2 separate regions of the Homo sapiens genome follow, and region 2 is linked to region 1. The links come from fine-mapping of genetic effects on gene expression. A gene starts in region 1. The other region holds a variant in brackets. All regions are shown on one strand. Distances are between the middles of the regions. Region 1 holds the start of TEX261 (testis expressed 261). Region 2 holds the start of NAGK (N-acetylglucosamine kinase).

Region 1 (12,227 bases):
AAAACTGAAATGCTAGGTAATGATTCACCACCACTAGTCCTGTTGAGGGAATGAAGAGTCAGTCAGTTTAAGGGGAATAACAGAAAGCTGTACTTTTAACTTCAAAAGGCCCTCAGAAGTTGGGAGCCTCCATGGAGTCTTAGGCCTGACTTTACACTCAACTCAGAGTAGGCTACTGCCTAGAACCGTTTCCCATCTGCTAAAATGGGAGAATGAGCCTCAACCTGCCCACTGCACAGGGCATTCTGAGTAAAATTAGAAGAAGGCTCTTTGCATGTTATAAAAGTGAGACTTCTATGTTACATAATCCAAAGCATCATGACGATGAACCTCGTTTTTCGTGGATGTGAGGGCTAAAGAAAGCTCTCCCACAGTGACAGGTGGGGAGAAATCATGGGTGTGCAGACCAGACGCCCCTAAGAGGCTCTACTCCAAACTCGCAGCAAGGAGAAGGCCTGCTCAAATAAACAAACTGGGCAGCAAGGAGAAGGCCTGCTCAAATAAAAAGGCTCTCACTCCTCAGGAATAAAAGGGCAAGACTTGCTAGATGCTTTGAGGTGCAGTCTTCAGGTTCCTCAACATTCTGGGGGAGGGGGTCCCTCCTCATCCTGCCCCCAGGTAAGGCATACCGGTGTGAACTGATACGTTCTGGACACACACACACACACAGCCACCCCTCCTTGGTGTGTAACTGAGTTTATAAAAGAGGGCACGTGTGCATATCCTGGACACAGGCTGCTCAAGAGACAGTCATCCCTGCCGGTTCCCATGGTGAGGTGAAGGGCAGGCACCAGAAAGAACATGTCCCCTGAAACTGACTGTCCCCTCACACACACCTCACAGCAATTCTCATGTCTCCTTTCTTCTCTCCTGCCTCTCCCATTCTAAGGCAAAGACTACAGTTCTGCTATGCCTAGCCACACTCTAGGGCTAAGAGATAATGGGAGGTAGGATAGTGCCTGGTGCCCACAAGATCTTTTGGAAAAACTCTTTTAGGCATTAAAGGGCAGATCAAGGGAGTGAAGTCAGGGGAGCCTGCTGCTGAGGGGCTGGGGGCAGGACTTCTTCCCTGGACAGAGGGGCCTGGTCTCCATGGAAGGGCTCCCTAACAAACCTCTGCTGAACAAATTCTTTGGTGAAATCACACCCAAGGAAGAAACCAGTTTTGGCTTTAACAATATGCCCTTTGTGTGGATAATATTCACCCTCCAGGCTCTCTCATAGAAATAGAAAAGTCACTCTAAAAAACCCCTAACTCCATCTGATACCCTGACTGAAAGCTAGGGTAGCCAGCAATGATGAACAGGAGCAATGGCAATCTTGGCAACCAAAATACTTTCCGAAGCCTTTTCCAGGAATATCTGTAAATACCTATATGCACCTACTATATGCCCACTGAGTCTCCCAATAGTTCTTTCAGAAACATCCTCTCTGAATAGATGGAGAAGCTAAGGCCCAGAGAGGGCCAATGATTCCCCAGGGTCAGAAAGTGGTGGCAGGGCAACGCCAAGAAGACTGGGTCCTCCACATCCAGGCTCAAGCCCGAGGCAGCGGCAGCCAGTGAGAATGAGATGAGAAGCTGCAGCCCCCAGGAGGCATTCACACCAGGCCAGAGTCTGCAAGGTGCTCACAGCCCCATGAGGCTCCAGTCCTAACAATGACTTTGGGTCAGAGGACTGGACGGACAGCTGCCTGCCTACCGGAAGGGCTTTGGGCTTTTTCTGGCCAAGTGGTTTTTTTGAGGCTGGAACTGCTCAGTTGGGGGCCCTGCCTCAGCCAATCCACAACCTCTTCTTTCCCAAACTCTCCTTCAAACTTACCTCTCTGGGAAAGCCCTCCCTGTCTGAGTCCCCAGCCCCAACAAATTCTATTCACTAGAGCCAAGGTGGGCTCTAGAGTCCTCAGCAGTAAGAACCGCATCTTCCCAACTAGCCTGGCTTCCTGGAGGACTTCAACAGCTGGCTTCCTTTTTCTGTATCCCCTTTAGTGCCCAGGATGGAGATGGGCACACCCAACCACATCAGCTGCCTCCCCAACTCTGTCCCCTCTCACCACACGACAGGATGAAGTTAGGCGAGGTCAGCATGATGAAGGGGAAGGTCTGGAGGAGGCCAAAGTAGACGAGGTTGGTGAATAGGCCCACTCCAATCATGCTGGTGGGGAAGCGCTCAAAGACGTAGAGGCCAATCAGTACAGCGGTGGAGAACTGAAACAACCAGAGGCAGACAGTGCAGGGCGCTTCTTCCAGGCAACGTTCCTGGACTCACCAACCCCCAGCCCGCTCTGGGCAGCACTAGGTTCATGCTTCAATCTCCTCATTTCACAGGTCTGGCCTCCCCAGCTAGGTTCTCTGCTCCCAAAAGGCAACATTTTTTTTTTTTTTTTTGAGACGGAGTCTCACTCTGTCATCCAGGCTGGAGTGCAGTGGCGCGATCTCCTGGATTCAAGCAATTCTCTTGCCTCAGCCTCCTGAGTAGTTGGGACTACAGGCATGCACAACCACGCCCAGCTAATTTTTGTGTCTTTAGTAGAGACAGGGTTTTGCCATGTTGGCCAGGCTGGTCTCAAACTTCTGATGGCCTCCCAAAGTGCTGGGATTACAGGTGTGAGCCACCGCACCCAGCCCATTTCTCAAACTTTTTGACAGCAACCCACAGTAAGAAAAACATCTGCCAGGCGAGGTGGCTCACGCCTGGAATCCCAACACTTTGGGAGGCCAAGGCAGGCAGATCACCTGAGGTTGGGAGTTTGTGACCAGCCTGACCAACATGGAGAAACCCCATCTCTACTAAAAATACAAAATTAGCCAGGCATGGTGGCACATGCCTATAATCCCAGCTACTCGGGAGGCTGAGGCAGGAGAATCGCTTGAACCCAGGAGGCAGAGGTTGCGGTGAGCTGAGATTGTGCCACTGCACTCCAGCCTGGGTAATAAGAGCGAAACTCCATCTCAAAAAAAAAAAAAGAAAAAGAAAAACATTTTACACTGTGACCCCAACACATATATACATATATATGATTCAAAGCTCAAATTTCAATTCTATTTATGTTCCTTTTTTTAAAAAATGCTGATTGTGACCTACTATACAGCCAAATAATGAATCATGCCTACAGTTTGAAAAACACTACTGATAAGTACCTACAGTTGTCAGTGCTTAGCAAATGACAGTTGGCTGAATGAAGGGCTAATTACTGTGCCAACACCCACAAGCTGGGCCTCTGGACCAGAGCTGAGGGCTATAGTCTTGCCTCCACTGTGAACTCCCAACCTCAGCCATGCCCAGAGTGCACATGGCTGCTGACACCAGGCGACTTGAGGGGCTGTGGACGCTTTCTCTCCAATGGCACCCCTACCCCCAGCCTTTCCTGCAGCTGAAGGAAGTCTGTCCACCAGCAGTCACCCCTATGGCTTTGATATCAGTGGCAAGGACTGTGTCTTCAGTAAGAGAAGCCTCCCATGAGACCAGGGAAGGGCGAGGGCAGCGAAGCTGTGCCGATCTTAGGACAAATCACTTGATCCGATTAGAAAGATGGCAATGAACATATATGCAAAACTGTCTTATGGCTCCTCTAAGTTTTAAATGCTGTGAGCAGAGCAAAGGGCTAAAGACAGCGGGAGAGAGCTAAGCAAAGTCAAATCTACGGTCTTGTCAACAGAGAAGTACACTTCGCTGTCACCTTAAGGACTAGAGCACAAGGCCTGCAGTGAAACAATGCCACTTGGGGAAGGCGGCCAGGGAAGATCTGGGCCCAGGAGTGCAGACCCAAAAGACAGCGTTCAGGGCAAGGAGGTAAGAGTGTATGCTCAGGAAACAGCAGAGACACAGGCCTCATCATCCATGCCAAACTCTCCCCACTTCCTGCTTTTGAGGCAGGGCAAAAGAGTGAGGAGGACTCCTGGAGAAAGATGCCACTTACCCAGATCATGTATTTTATGATCCTGCTGGTGGCCACTGTGTATTCTTCTATCAGTTCTGCCAGGTAATAGAGTCCAGCCGCTGCAGGGTGGGAGGCAGGGAGACTATCAGCCAGGGTCACTCCCACCATCCTGGTCACCCCTCTCTCTGCAGCCCAGTCCCCATCCACCCTTCATGGACCCCAGAAGGTCAAGAACAAACCAAACATCCCATGTGTTGCCCTTCCAAGTCTGGAGAAGTAAAACTTTCTTAGGGCAACTAAGGACAAATCTCATAAAAATCAACGAAAGTCTGCATTTGATGCCACAGTACAATGATAACCTCTGGCTCAGAAAACGGAATTTCACGTATTCAATAAACACCTGCTGGGCACTTGGCATGAGCCAGGTCCCTGGGCTGAGAATACAGCTGAAAAAGACAGACAAGGGTCCTTCCCTGACCCAGCTTGGGAAAGGGAAGGGGAACAGTAGGGAGAGACAGACGAGTTTAGTGTGAGAAATGCTACTTTAGGGAAAGGACAGGGCACTGCTGGACCATCAACCCCTGTGGACTTCCCGGAAAAGATGACATCTCAACTGAGGCCGAATGGGAACCAGCCAGAGGAGAAGTGTCAAAGGTGGAGAGAGCAGGGAGCATGAAGGGCCAGAGGCGCAAAGGCGGCGGTAGGCGTTGGGGAAAAGTTCCGCGCGGCAGGCCCGCGAAGAGTGGGAGCCGCAGCGGTTAGCGGTCCGCAGACGCGGGGGCGGCACTCGAGTCACCCTTTCTCGGGCAGTGCCGGAGCGGACTCTGTGACACCTGGAAGGAGCCACGGTCAGGCCGGGCTGCCAGGCTCGACAGGAGGGGCAGGATCAGGCGGGAAGGGGTTGGGGCGGCGAAGGCCGGGAGCGCCGGGCAGTGGTCCCCCGAGTGGCTCCGAAACCCCCGCGATGCGACCCCCAACGAGCACCGATGCCGGGGCGGGAGCCCGCGCGGGCCGGGGTCGTGCAGTCTCACCGACAGCCAGCGTGATGAAGGCCACCTGGATGAAGAGCGACAGCCAGCTCAGCAGGTACATGAACCACATGGCGCCCCCACCCGCCCGCTCCCCGGCCACCGGGACGGGCCTGCGCGCTTCGGCTCCGGCGACACACAGCCGCCACCGCCGCCGCCGCCGCCGCGTCCCCGCCCCGCGGACGACAGGACGACGGTGCGCCGCCGCCGAGAGGAGCCCGGCCCTAGCGCTGCCCGGGGCCAGGCTCGCGCTAGCGCCGCCCGCCGGAGAGGAGGGCCAACCGCCGCTGCCCCGCCAGGATCCCCCGCTCCACTGAGGGGAATGAATGCAGACCGCTGCAGCCAGAGGGAGGCGGGACGGTGCCCAGGGGCGGAGACGACCAAGCGCCCATACTGGGGCTCGGAGTGCAGCCTCCAGTCCCTCCCTGTGCACTCCCGTACCAGCCTGGAGGTGGTCCAGGGCCGGACAGGGCCGCCCGACCGCGCCCCAGCAACCTCCCCAGAACCTGCCTCCCGGCAGGTTGCGGACAAGTCTGTCTCTTGCTATCGCAGGTGATAGGGACAAAATTATTGAATTCCTAATATGTGCCACGCTCTGTGATAAAGGCGAGGTGTGTTCTTGTCGGAAATTTGAGCAGATAATGTAAATCATTTTATAGACGGGGAAGCCGGGGCCAAAGGAAGTTGCCCTGGGTCATGCACCTAGGAAGCGGCACAATCAGGAGTTGGGGTGATTTTAATCGGTCATCCTCCGGCCTAATTCCCCTCTAGGCTGTTCTTTTGGGGTACATTCTGCACCTTTGTATCGCCTGCACCTCACCCCTTGCCGGGCACGCAGGGCGTCCGCTAGGCGCTGGATGCATTTACTACACCTCTGGGAGGGTTCCTGAGGGGCACCTGGAACCGGTTAGTCCTTGTCAACAAGTCTCCCATCTAGTGGCGGAGACAGGCATGCAAAATAAAGTATGTAGAACAAGAGTCTAGTAGGCTTATTTCAGAATCATATTTTTCCTGCATAAAAATACGTATTCCTAAAAAAAACAATTACCGTATGATTTAGCAATTCTACTTCTGGGTATATACCCAAAAGAACTGAGAAAGCAGAGACATTTGTATACCAATATTCATAGCATTATTCACAATGGTCAGAAGAGGGAAGCAACCCAAATGTCCATCGGTTGACGAAAAGATAGACATAAAGTGCTATAAACATACAATGGAATATTATCTAGCCTTAAAATGAAGTGAAATTCTGACACATGCTACAACATCAATGAACCTTGAAGGCATGATGCTAAGTGAAATAAGCCAAATAGGGAAGGACACACATTGTATGATTCCCCTCATATGAGGTACCCAGAGTAGTCAAAATCATGGGCAGAAAGTTAAATGGTGCTTGCCAGGGTCTGGGGGACAAAGAATGGGGAGTTACTTTTTAATGGATACAGGGTTTCAGTTTGGGAAGATGGATGGTGCTGATGGCATCACAACAGTGTGAATGTGCTTAATGTCACTGAATTGTATACAGTGTTACAGAATTGTAAAATGGTTAAAACGGTCAATTTTATGTTATGCATAGCTTCCCCCTCCCCCCAACAAAATACATAAGATTACAAAGCCCATCCTGGCTAACACGGTGAAACCCAGTCTCTACTAAAAATACAAAAAATTAGCCGGGCTTGGTGGCGGGCGCCTGTAGTCCCAGCTACTCAAGAAACTGAGGCAGGAGAAGAGCGTGAACCCGGGAGGCAGAAGTTGCAGTGAGCCGAGATTGCGCCACTGCACTCCAGCCTGGGCGACAGAGCGAGACTCCGTCTCAAGAAAAAAAAAAAAAAAAAGATTACAAAGCAGGCTGGGCACAGTGGCTCATGCCTGTAATCCCAGTACTTTGGGAGGCTGAGGTAGGAGGATCACTTGAGGCCAGGAGTTCAAGACCAGCCTGGGCAAAGAAAAATTTTAAAATGGCCAGGCATGGTGGTGCGTACCTGTAGTCGCAGTTACTCTGGGCTGAGGCAGGAGGATTACTTGAGTCCAGGAGATGGCGGCTGCAGTGAGCTATGATTGGGCCACTGCATTCCAGCTGGGATGACAGAATGAAAACTTGTCTCAAAAAAAAAAAAAATTGCAGTTGCCGGGCGCGGTGGCTCACGCCTGTAATCCCAGCACTTTGGGAGGCCGAGGCGGGAGGATCACGAGGTCAGGAGATTGAGACCATCCTGGCTAACACGGTGAAACTCTGTCTCCACTAAAAAATACAAAAAAAAAAATTAGCCGGGCATGGTGGCGGGCGCCTGTAGTCCCAGCTACTCAGGAGGCTGAGGCAGGAGAATGGCGTGAACCCGGGAGGCGGAGCTTGCAGTGAGCCGAGATCGCGTCACTGCACTCCAGCCTGGGGGACAGAGGGAGACTCCGTCTCAAAACAAAAACAAAAACAAAAATAAAACAAAAAAGATTACAAAGCAAACCAATTATATAGAAATGCAAGTATTAAACTATTTTTAGAAAACCAAATGTATTCTGTAATTTATGTGCTTCTCTATTAATATATGACATAAGCAGACCTATTGCAAAATCTAATAGCTACCTACCACAATGACAAAGTAGGAGTGAGGGTAAATGATATTTCAAGATATCATTAATCATATGAGAGAGTTATAGATAAAAATAGAAACTTTTCTCCTTCCAAGTTTCCAGGCGTCTTAAAATTGTCTCCCTAAATTCTATACCTGCTGACTTCTAAGGGGTCCCTGGACCCCCAGTTAAGAATACCTGAGAGATATGTATATGGGGCATGGTGGGGTGGCTCACGCCTATAATCCTAGCACTTTGGGAGGCCTAGGCAGGAGAATTACTTGAGCCTAGGAGTTCAAGATTGACCTAGACAACAAAGTGAGACCCCATCTCTACAAAAAATTTAGAAGTTATCCAGGTGCAATGGTGCCGGTAGTCCTGGCTACTCAGGAGTCTGAGGTGGGAGATCGCTTGAGCCTGGGAGTTCAAGGTTGCAGTGAACCAGGATCACACCACTGCACTCCAGCCTGGGTGACAGAGTGAGACCTTAAAGGGCTATATCCTTTTTTTTTTTTTTTTTGAGATGGAGTCTTGTTCTGTTGCCCAGGCTGGAGTGCAGTGGCACGATTTCAGCTCACTGCAACCTCTGCCTCCTGGGTTCAACCGATTCTCCTGCCCCAGCCTCCTGAGCAGTTGGGATTACAGGTGCCCACCACCACATCCAGCTAATTTTTGTATTTTTGTAGAGATGGGATTTCGCCATGTTGGCGAGGCTGGTCTCAAACTCCTGACCTCAAGTAACCCACACACCTTGGCCTCCCAAAGTACTGGGATTACAGTTATGAGCCACTGCACCCGGCCTCACCATATGCTTATTTACAAGGCTTTTCATTGCAGCACTGTAAGAGACTGAAAACAACCTAAGTGTTCATTGATAGGAAACTGGTTAAGTATATTTAGCCCTAAAAGCCAATGAGGGTGTTCTTTATGTACCTATATAGGACTATTTTTGAAAAAAAGCAAAAGAATGGGGAAAAGAATCTATATACACATTTTTTGCAGGGAGGGACAGGGTCTCACTCTGTCACCCAGGCTGGAGCACAGTGACAAGATCATGGCTCACTGCACCCTCAACCCACAGGGCTCAAGACATCCTCCCACTTCAGCCTCTCAAGTAGCTGGGACTACAAGTGCATGCCATAACACCTGGCTGATTTTTTTATTTTTATTTTTTGTACAGATGAGGTCTCATTATGCTGTCCAGGCTGGTCTTGAACTCCTGGGCTCAAGCAATCCTCCTGCCACAGCCTCCCAAAGTAGTACTTTGGTAATACAGGCATGAGCCACGTCACCCAGGCTACACATTTCTTTCTATAAAATATCTCTGGAAGGATACGTTAGAAAACAGTAATATTGCTTGCTTCCTAGGAAGAGAAGGGGTGGGGTTTCAGAGTAGGAAACAGCATTCCCACTGTATGTCTTTTTATATCCTTAAAATATTGAACTATGTAAAGATATGGAAAGGTGTTACCTATTCATAAATGAAGTTTACAATTAAAATGTTCATAATATGATGGGCCTGCTAGGATGTCTCCAATTTCCTGTTGTTACCCAGTCCCTATGTGAGGAAAAACCATTGAGTTGTGCCTTACTGGTAAGTTTGCTAACCTTAGGTCATGGGACTTGGTCATCCCTGATTGTTCCAATAGGGGAGCTTCATGTCCAGATCTTTTCTATTGAGGAGTTTGTATTGGAGACACGGAAGCATCAGTGAGTAACGGCACAGTAAAGTATCTCTCTCTCACTCTCTCTCTCTCTCTCTGTCTCTCTCATTTATTTACTTATTTGACATGGAGTCTTGCTCTGTTGCCCAGGCTGGAGTGCAGTGGCACAATCTCAGCTCACTGCAACCTCCGCTTCCCGGGTTCAAGCAATTCTCCTGCCTCAGCCTCCCAAGCAGCTGGTATTACAGGCATTCACCACCATGCCCAGATAATTTTTATATTTTTGTAGAGATGGAGTTTTGTCATGATGGCCAGGCTGGCCTCAAGTGATCCACCTGCCTCAGCCTCCCAAAGTGCTGGGATTACAAGCATGAGACACCACACCCAACCAGTAAAGTCTCAATTGGTATTTTTTTTTCCCTAAACATCTTCCCAGGGAAGGAGGAAACTATAAAAATATCCCCCATCCCTCTCCAGAATTGTAGATAAGGGAAACTGGAGGCCCCAAAAGGTTAAGTGCTTTCACCTTTGAACCAGCCTTGTTTTTCCAGGGCTGGGCACTTTCACTTCCCACAGTTTTAAAGCCAAAAGTAGCCTGAGAGAGGTAAGGCTGAGGATTCAAATTTCCTCCGATGGCAGGAAGAGAGAGGCCACCATTTCCTGAGAGTGGTGAGAAGTCAGGTCCACCTGACCCAACAGGACAGGGCGGGGCTCAGGGAGGATCCTTAGGCTGTGTTTGGGGAAGGAGTTACAAGGGGAGCAAACCCAGGCCTTGCCTGAAGGAGGGAAGGAAGGATAGCAGGTCCCCACACTCAATTCAAGGGACTCATTTCAAGAGTGAAAGGGTTTGGAGGTTCAAAGGTGACTGACCAGTTTGTTGATTTAAATATTGACAGGTGGCCGGGCATGGTGGCTCACATCTGTAATCCCAGCAATTTGGGCACTGAAGCAGGAGGATTGCTTGAGCCCAGGAGTTCAAGACTAGCCTGGGAAACATAGTGGGACCCCATCTCTACAAGAAATAAAAAAAATTAGCTGGGCATGGTGGCACACACTTGTGGTCCTAGCTACTTGAGAGGTGCAGGTGGGAGGATCCCTTGAGCCCAGGGGGTTGAACCTGCAATAAGCCATGTTTGCACCACTGCCCTCCAGCCTGAGTGACAGAGTGAGACCTTGTCTCCAAAAAACCCCACAAGGGCCGGGCACGATAGCTCATTCCTGTAATACCAGCACTTTGAGAGGCCGAGGCGGGTGGATCACCTGAGGTCGGGAGTTCGAGACCAGCCTGACCAACATGGAGAAACCCCCGTCTCTACTAAAAATTAAAAAAATTAGCCGGCTTGGTGGCGCATGCCTGTAATCCCAGGTACTCGGGAGGCTGAGGCAGGAGAATCACTTGAACCCAGGAGGTAGAGGTTGAGGTGAGCCAAGATCGCGCCATTGCACTACAGCCTGGGCAACAAGAGCGAAACTCCATCTCAAGGGAAAAAAAAGAAAAAGAGAGAAAAAAAAACCACACACAAATGTTACCATTTAATGTTTGTAGGGTGAAGGACCAACTCCGTATATTTCATGAGAGGGTTCTAGGGGAAACTAGTTATTTCAACATAATAGGTGTCTCTGCTTCAGAAAACAAAGACCAAATTTCTTTTCAGGTTTTTGGCTGAGATGAAGTGCAGAAAGCAATAATTGCTAGCATTTATAGTGTTCTTTCTCTGTGTCAGACACTGCTCTATGTGATTTGTATGTACTAACCTATTTAATACACACATCTAGCACAGGCGATACTATTACTGTCTCCATCACAGCTAAGAAACCAAGGCACGGAGAGGTTCAATATCTTGTCCAAAGTCATACCACTAATATTTTAAGCAGCCAGGGGTCAAACCGGGGCAGGCTGGCTCCGGAGTCCACATGGTTTTCTCTGGTCTTTCTGAGTTGAGTCACCTGACTTTGCAGTTAGGGTGATTCTGCCTGCCTTGTCATCAGGTGCCATTTGGCCAGTGGGCTGGGTCCTGCCTCATCTCCCTGCAGGCTGCCTGGTCCCCCGGGCTTTTCCTCTTCTCCCCTGCCTTTATCCTTGCAGGAACAAATGAATACACCTCAGGGTTCTGGCTTTGACCACCCCTGGTCCCCTCCACTGTCTTCACCCACTCCCCTTCTCATTCTAACAGACTTACACATTCACTATGCCTGAGGCCAAGGACATCCTTAGTAGGATCTGTGGTCCCAGTGGTCCACCCACACGCTGGGGACCTGCACATCCCCAGGGGCTAGGAAGGTGCGGGGAGGTGGAAGTAGGAGGCGGTACGGCCGGAAGTCGGCCGCCAAAGTTCCCCTTGCCGGGCTGTGTTGGCTGCTGCCCTCTAGTGGCGACCAGAGGAGCTGGCGAGGACCGAAGCCAGGTTCATCGCTTATGGAAAGCAGTTTTGAGAGACAGTGGGGACCCCACTACCCGACTCATGAAGGCCAGGTGGGCAGGCCCCGAGAGTACACACAGCCGACACCCACCCACCACACACACACAGTACACAAAATTGTAGACAGGGTCCACCTCGGCATCAGGGCTCCTGCTGCCCCGGCATGGTCTGGCTACAGACGATGGTTGTTGTGTGAGAGACTGTGAGAGACACTGTGAAATCAGACATGGCAGAGACAGGCCTGGAGGCCCAGGGCCCTCCCTCTGCCTAGTCTTCTCCTCCCCCGGTGTGGCTCTTACCTGGACCTGAACTCCTTCCCCACCAGCTCCCCAGGCCTCCCAGGAGCACAGCTTTGGGGTAGGAAGAGCTGAGGAGAGAGGTTACCGCCCGCCCCACTGCACCCTAACACATGCCATCCACCACACGATGTCCCCTCTTTAAGGTGCCACATGCTGGGGGAAATTTTTCCTGTGATGGCCCCTGTAGTTGGCAGGTGTGTTGCTTGGCACCCCACCTCTAAGATCTTGGTTCTGCAGCCGGCTAGCAAGACCAAAATTCTAGTGAGAGACAAACTACAATGAAAAACAATGACCCCTGCTATGTCCACATAATCTATGTGTCTAGGGAAGCTAGGCCTCCCAACCTGGTTTCTACACGGTGCCTGT
Region 2 (8,000 bases), 73 kb after region 1:
CCTCCACCTCCACCTCCACCACTTGCTTGTTCATCTCTCACCTGGGCCAATGTCCAGCCTTCTAAGTGTTTCCCTTCTCCAAACTCTCCCTTCCCATTTGTCACCCTATAAGTAACCTGCCAGATTATTTTAAAGCACAGTGCTGAGGTCACACATGTACTGGCAACTTCTAATGCAAGACCGACTAGGGCTAGATCTCTTTGAGGCTCCCTGACCACACGTCCAACAACTCCTCCCTCAGTTCACAATTTCACTTCTCCTTATTTTCTCTTTCTCTTCCTGATCTGTTCTGTAAATTTAGTTTCTGCTGTGGAATTTGCTTGCTCCCTTCTTTAGTTCAAATCAGGCATTTGCTACCCCTCATGTCTGTGACACCGTGTTTATAGTTTATAAACCACTCTCAAAGCTATTTGTGGAGTACTGAGGTTAGCCCTGGACATGCTGTGGTGAGTAAAAACAGATGTGGCTGTGTTTCATGAATAAAGTCAACAAAATCTGTTGAGGACCCTGACCAAAAGTCATCTGTCCCAAAATCCTAAGTGGATTTGTGAGGAAAGATATTTTCCCATTGTCTCTCTTAACACTCTTCCCCCTGACTCCCAAACTATGGCCTCCCTGGGGTCATAGGAACAAAGTACAGAAGACAGAGAAGAAGACTGTGGCTTGCAGATTCTTAAAGAACTTTATTAACCTTGTGAGTGTCATAGAAGCAGCTACTGGGATGTTGCAAGCCCAGTGCAAACTGGTATATCTTGCTATATTGCAACATCTTGAATTTCCTTCCCTTTATATTAACTACCCACACATAATAAGCCACATCTATTATTTGTGTGAGCCTATGCTTTTTACTTTTATTTTAGAGCCTCTCGTTTCCTCATTTGTAATATGTGATCAGAAATCTGTCATTCTCGGCCTGCCGCGGTGGCTCACTGCTATAATCCCAGCATTTTGGGAGGCCAAGGCAGGCAGATCACTTGAGGTCAGGAGTTCAAGACCAGTGTGGCTAACATGGTAAAACCCTGTCTCTACTAAAAATACAAAAATTAGCTGGGCGTGGTGGCACATGCCTGTAGTCCCAGTTACTTGGGAGGCTGAGGCAGGAGAATCACTTGAACCAAGGAGGCATAGGTTGCAGTGAGCCGAGATCCCACCACTGCACTCCAGCCTGGGCCACAGAGTGAAACTCTGTCTCAAAAAAAAAAAATCTGTCATTCTCATAAGGTTGTTAGGATGATCAAACAAGATAAAGGTACATAAAAGAGCTCTATAGAATTATAATGTACAAGGCCGGGCACAGTGGCTCATGCCTGTAATCCCAGCACTTTGGGAGGCCGAGGTACGCGGATCAAAAGGTCAGGAGATCGAGATCATCCTGGCTAACACGGTGAAACCCCGTATCTACTAAAAATACAAAAAATTAGCCAGGCGTAGCAGCGTGCACCTGTAGTCCCAGCTGCTGGGGAGGCTGAGGCAAGAGAATGGCGTGAACCCGGGAAGCGGAGCTTGCAGTGAGCTGAGATCACGCCACACTGTACTCCAGCCTGGGCGACAGAGCAAGACTCTGTCTCAAAACAAACAAACAAACAAACAAACAAAAAGAATTATAATGTACAACATAAACGTATTTTATTTATTCTTTTTTTTTTTTTTTTTTTGAGACGGAGTTTCACTCTTGTCACCCAAGCTGGAGTGCAATGGCACAATCTTGGCTCACCACAACCTCCACCTCCTGGGTTCAAGTGATTCTCCTGCCTCAGCCTCCCAAGTAGCTGGGATTACAGGCGCCTGTCACCACGCCCAACTAACTTTTGTATTTTTAGTAGAGACAGGGTCTCGCCCTGTTGGCCAGGCTGGTCTTGAACTCCTGATCTTGGGTGATCCACCCCCTCGGCCTCCCAAAGTGCTGGGATTACAGGAATGAGCCACCACGCCCGGCTACTTTCTTCTTTAAATCAATTATATGGCCATTATTTATTTCATAAATAGGCATTCAGTGACTTTGAAATATTATGGTCCAGATAGAGACAACAGGGTTGTACAACAGAAATATGTAGGTCAAAATTTTAAATATTCTAGTAGTGACACTAAAAAATATAATAGATTGGCAAAATTTAGTAATCTATAATCTTGATCTACTACATCCAGAATGTTATTTCAACATGTGATTCATATAATAGTGACTAATGAGGTATCTTACACTCTTTTTTTGTAGTAAGTCTTTGAAATCCTGTGTGTATTCTACATTGACGGGACATCTCATTTTGGACTAACCACATTTCAAGTGCTCAGTATTCACATATGGATACTGTGCAGGACAGCACACACTAATTGGTAATGTAAATACAAGTTAGTTAAGATCTGTGAAGTACTTTATGGTTTCCAAAACTCTTTTGGCATTTAAATCTTGCGTCAGCCCCAGCAGGTAGATGTTTATCATTTCCATTTTGTAGAGGAGAGGCTGCAGCAATTACCTGTAAGTCACCCAAGCTCATCCAGCTAGTAAATGGTGAACTCAATTCTTGTCTTAAACCTGGGCACTTTCCCTTTTGCTTGCTTGCCTAAACAAGCAATACAAAGACAAACTTAATATTTATACACATACGTCCCATGGCTCATTGCAGTAGTACAGGACAGAAACAATTATTTCAAAATCCACCTACAATCTAGTCTCCAAAAATCCTGCCCAGTTTAATTGCACCACAATCTACTAACTGTAATTCTAAAAATGTGTATGTTGGATAATCTTCCAGCTCTAAAGTGCTGTGAATTAAAAAAATGCCATAGGCAGGCATAAAAAAATCCTACCCTCTATTATATTCTCCATCTGATATAGAATATATGATATATATTCTATAAATGAATACATGATACAGAGTCTATCATGTAGTGATTTACTTTTTACTTTTGTGAATTACAACGTGGTAGGGTAGGAAATGAGAAAGCTTAAAAAGCCTAATTTTCTCACTAAAGCATAACCAGACACAGCAGCCTATTAGGGGTTTCTCCAGAAGATGGCAGGCAGTCAAGGGGGACAGAGTTCGACCCGCGACAGGCCAACTGATTTCCCCAAAAAGATGCCAAGGGCAGCTAACCGCCCTCCTGGCCCGCGAAGCTGCTCCTTGAGGGCCCAAAACTTCCCGGAGGAGCCAGAGGAGGCCCTCAGGAGCCACAGCTCTCCCTGACTTGGCCTGTATTTGCACCCCTAGGGATCCCATTCCCTTTCCCGACGCAGCGCAAGGAAGGGGAGCGGAATGGGGGCTGAAAGGCAATAAAAAACTTGTAAAGCCGTATCTGCTAGTTCTCCCAGTGGGCTATGTCCCTGCAAATATCCTCCACAAGAAGTAAACTGGGTGGGTAGGAAGAGGTGAAGGCTCCCTCCTCAGGGCTGCCGGGACCGCCTCGAGGGCTTGTCTGTTTAGGTCCCAATTCCTCCCGGATCCGTACATTCACACGAGCGCAGGGCAACAATCTGAGCGAGTGTTCGTGTGTGCCCGTGTGACTCGCCATCGCGTGGCAGATGTTCAGTAGAACATTACAGTAATTTCTGTTACAGGTCCATGGGCGCAGGTCCCTGAGCCCACAGCTTCGCGGGGGTCTGGCCGAGCATGCGTCACAACCTACGCGGCCAAGAGCAGTGCGCACGCGCAACCTAACGCGGGACTGCCAGCAACTTCCGGGCGTTTACAGGCAGGCAGGTCAGTGATGTGTCCTAAGGGTCCGACCGACCTAGATACCCCTCTTTGATTCCTCCTCTTGGGATTAGTGTCCATCTCTGGAAGCAGGATCCAGGAGGACGGGAGGGGCCGCTGCGGACCGCAGTCGCTCCACCTGGAGGAGACACCAGAAGGAAGACAGCCTGAGGGACGCAGCCATCCCCGGCTCCTACCGGCGCCCCGCCCCGCGCATGCGCACGCGCACAGGGAGTCAGCTGGCTGCGCGGGAGGTCACGGGAAGTGGGGCGGTGCCCAGACAGCTGGAGGGAAGGAGGTGTCAGGCGGGGAGAGACGCAAACGGCGGGACCAGCAGCGACGGTAGCAGCAGCATGGCCGCGATCTATGGGGGTGTAGAGGGGTGAGTGCGGCCCGGCGGAGGGAGCCTGGGCCCGAAGGCGGGGCGGAAGGCCGTGGCCAGCCTGGCAAGCTGGTGGCCTTGATCCTCGGCGTCCGGGCACTTTGGGCGGCGGGACCTTGCGGTGAAGAGGTGTGTGCA[C/T]GCGCAGGGGCGCCCTGGAGCGCACAGCTGTATGCCTTACGGGGACTCTGCCTGTGCAACAGCCACACCCCGGGTTGGGGATCCTTTGTGTTTCTTGGCGGAACCACGCCCCTTTCTTCCACGAAACACCCACTCCGCTGTCTTCAGCTGGAGAAGCAGCTCCTTTTTCCTATTCCTGACCTCGGACAGAGTTTTGCAGAACAGGTGTCAGGTGTGAAATTGCTGAGCGCGGGCAGGGTGGGGAGTGGGAGTGGGGAGAAGCGGGACAAAGATCTTGGCTGAGGTTATCCGGGAGCTGGAGCAGCTGCGAGCCAGAGTACTAGGTTGTCCTGATGTCTGAAAACCGCTCCATCCCTGTTGGCCTTCCATGCTGCTTTCACTAGATTGCATTTTTCTGCTCAGAAGCTTGTTTACTGAACTTTTTGTAATAGCTCTGCCCCTGGGTATGACCATGGACAAGATATTTACCCTCCCTGGGCTACAGTTACCGTATGTGCAAAGTGAGGATAGGGATAAATAAGATCGCTATGTCCCTGCCAGTGGCAACATTCTGTGAATCTGAGTTTGTCAAATCAGGGAATAATGGGGGTCGCTGGCCTCTCAGCCAGGGCACTGTACTTTCGAATCTGTGATTGTTTTCACTTCTCTGGCAGCCACACCCCACTGCTGATTCACAGACCCCAAAGTCTTTTCACATGAATTGTTAGGAATGATCTTTCCCATCCTGTATTTGTAGCACTTAAAAAAAACAGTATAGGAGTCTGCATTCATCCTTGTTATAGTCATCTGTAAGATATGACCCGTTTCTTCCAGTTCGTCAAGACATGCTTTTGGATGTGGAATCTGCCACCTCATGTATTAACTACCCCCTTGAAATTTCATGTCCTCTTTGAGTTTGATGAGCGGTCTTCAGTGTCTTCTTCTGCCATTCCTAAAAGTAATGATCAATAAAGAAACATATATCCCATCACCACAGATCTCCCTGTGAACTACTGTGACCCCCAGTAATCAACATTTGAAGGTTTAGTTGCTTAAGTATGTATGAAGTCACCCTGCCATCTGGTCAGCATTTCTAGCAAAGGTGTCTTGAAGACCTTGGCAGCTGGATCTTGAAATGCAGTCTTTAGCTATTGTGAGGGAAGCAGAGAGATGTGCCATTTTTCTTAGGAGTGTTTGCTGAGCATTGCCTGTGCCAGCTCCTGTGCTCGTTCTGAGAGGGTAAGTAAGTGATCAGGAGCTTGACCCAGTGGAGCTTGAAGTCTAGTGAGAGGCGGACACAAAGCGTCTGAACACACACTTCATACAGAGGAGACTTTAATAACTTTGGAGGCACTATGAAGGTTTAACTAACGGAGACTTAACTAATTCGTTGGGGTGGGCCACACCTCAGAAAAGGTTTCGAGGACTAGGTGAAGCGTAAGTAGAGTCTTGCAGGATAAGGAGGACATCCCCAAGGGAAGAGGAGTGAGAATTATGTTTCAGTTAAAGAGCACTCAAACACTGAACCACAGAGGCGGGTTTGGGAGTGGTGATTGAGTTTGTCGAAGCTGTCTCCTCCATCATACTGGGCTCTGCCAGTGTGGACAGCACAAGCTTAGCTCTCTCTGTGGGTTTTTCCGAGCAAGATCAAGTGCCCTCTTGTGTTCTGTAGGGGAGGCACACGATCCGAGGTCCTTTTAGTCTCAGAGGATGGGAAGATCCTGGCAGAAGCAGATGGACTGAGCACAAACCACTGGGTAAAAACCACACTGAGGGGATCAGAGGGCTTGGTTCTGATTTTATTCTCTGTAATTCCTGTTGAGGTGGTGGCTGGGACTCACAGAGCAGCCTGTGGGGGCAACATAGCTTCTGTAAGCCTTTGTAACTCCTTCTTCCCTTGATTGGGGCCAGCTGATCGGGACAGACAAGTGTGTGGAGAGGATCAATGAGATGGTGAACAGGGCCAAACGGAAAGCAGGGGTGGATCCTCTGGTACCGCTGCGAAGCTTGGTGAGTCTGGGGCGGAGCCTGGGAATTCAGCCATCTGTGACACTGAGACAGCTAGCAAGTTTGGACTAGATGAGTTTGATGACTGCAGAGGGAAAGACCTCCAAGACTTAGTCCCTGGTGTCAAAACTGTCATAATCTCACCCAGTCTCATGGCTTCAGTTGCCACCTACAAACTACAAATGTGTTGGAAGAGCACAGGGCTTTGGAGAGCTGCTGAGACCTTGGTTTGAATCCCAGCTTTGCTGCTCAGTATCTGCGTAACCCTGTGTAGGTTACTCACCTTCTCTAAGCCTCAGTTTCCTCATTTGGAAAATGTGAATAGTAGCTACCTCAGAGTTGTTGGGAAAGTAAAATGGCATGATACATTGCAAAGTGGTTAGTATAGAGCCTGACCCATAAGCACTCATTAAATGTTAGCTATTATTTACTCCTGGTTCAGATCTTTCTCCCAAGTTGCGGTAGCTCCAGCTACTCCCTGGACATATATGTGAGATGTTCTGCAGACACAGGCAAACCTCGTGTATACCAAACCAAGCTTACCTCTCTCCATCTCCCCTCACCTTGCCCCGCTGCCTGATCTTTCTGTTAAGAGCACTACTGCCCTTCCAAGCTCCAAAGCTGGCATTGTTGAATCCCCTCTTTCTTCTGTCCATCCCCAGTCCAGGTTGTTCTTATAACCACAGCCTTCTGAGGGGTCATTGTGTGGGGAGAAAGGAGGACTGGGGCTGGGTGAACAGGGTATGGCCAGATGGGGAGAACAGGAATCAGGCATCAGGAGGGGGCGGGGGTTGAGAAAAGAGCTGGGGCTGGGGCTCTGCACACTCGCTCACCTCCCGCGTGGCCTAGGGCCTATCTCTGAGCGGTGGGGACCAGGAGGACGCGGGGAGGATCCTGATCGAGGAGCTGAGGGACCGATTTCCCTACCTGAGTGAAAGCTACTTAATCACCACCGATGCCGCCGGCTCCATCGCCACAGCTACACCGGATGGTGAGGAAGTGGAGGGAGGGGTGAGAGTGAGAACTGGTTTTTTTGGGAAAGCCCCTTAGATATAGCTGACAAAACTTGTTCTGCAAATATCCAGAAGGCAGCCACTCTTATATTCCCCTCAACTCTTTAAGTAGTTTAAGTCTCTGCCAGAGCAAGGACCAGGCAGCAGGAGGAAGGGCAAGAAAGGTCTCTTGATGGGAATCCAGGAGTGGGGTCAAACATAACTCCCCTGCAGATGAGGGACCACCTGGGGGCGGTGTAGTGAGGAAGGCAGGCTGGGGAAGCTGTCAGTGCTGAGGAGGAAGTGGGGTGGCCTTGTGATAGTGTAAAGAGTTTTGGTGTCATGGGATTGGTGTTTGAATCCCAGTTCCTGTTTTGCCTGCTATACCATGTTGGCGAAGTTCCAAAACTCTGAGTTTCAGTTTTCTCATCTATAAAATAGAGGAAGTTGTATTCATAAGATGGTTTAGGGTATGAGTGAATATCACTGTGAGAACGGGTCTAGCACAATCCCAGTAAAGCAGGTAGAGTCACTGGAAGACCGGCTGGGCAAGGAGCCACATTCCCTCTAAGAGGTGCAGGCTTGCATTTCTCTTTGTCCCCCTAGACGAGGGCGTTATGGGATTAGAGTTTTTCTGAGACCCAGGCTCTCACCCTCAGGCAGGAAACTAGCTGGGCTCAGTTTTCTCCTCTACAGGACTGGGTGGTGATTCCCTTGCCTGGGGCTGTTTTCTGTCCTGTCTTTCCACAGTGGCAAGCTGTTGCTCTGTGCCAGGCCTCGGCCACACTGAGCCTCCTATTCCCTTTCCCCAGG

The links. PIP is the estimated chance that this variant, and not a neighbour inherited with it, causes the effect.
Region 2: its variant is fine-mapped to the expression of TEX261 in whole blood (TOPMed, PIP above 0.99).

Annotation. Positions count from the first base shown.
Region 1 is chr2:70,989,778-71,002,004 of GRCh38, forward strand. TEX261 (testis expressed 261) reads right to left here and starts at 5,096. Exons shown (of 6, transcript NM_144582.3): 1 at 4,911-5,096; 2 at 3,919-3,998; 3 at 2,053-2,206; 4 at 1-39. The coding sequence starts at 4,980. LOC105374796 (a long non-coding RNA gene) reads left to right here and starts at 11,481. Exons shown (of 2, transcript XR_940232.3): 1 at 11,481-11,615. RefSeq lists silencers at 4,668-4,757, 4,788-5,317 and enhancers at 5,858-5,907, 11,031-11,983.
Region 2 is chr2:71,064,642-71,072,641 of GRCh38, forward strand. It overlaps NAGK (N-acetylglucosamine kinase), which reads left to right and starts at 4,007. Exons shown (of 10, transcript NM_017567.6): 1 at 4,007-4,071; 2 at 5,861-5,945; 3 at 6,100-6,198; 4 at 7,045-7,186; 5 at 8,000. The coding sequence starts at 4,043. RefSeq lists a silencer at 4,233-4,292 and enhancers at 7,747-7,826, 7,857-7,916. The variant C/T (reference allele first, on the strand shown) is at 4,210.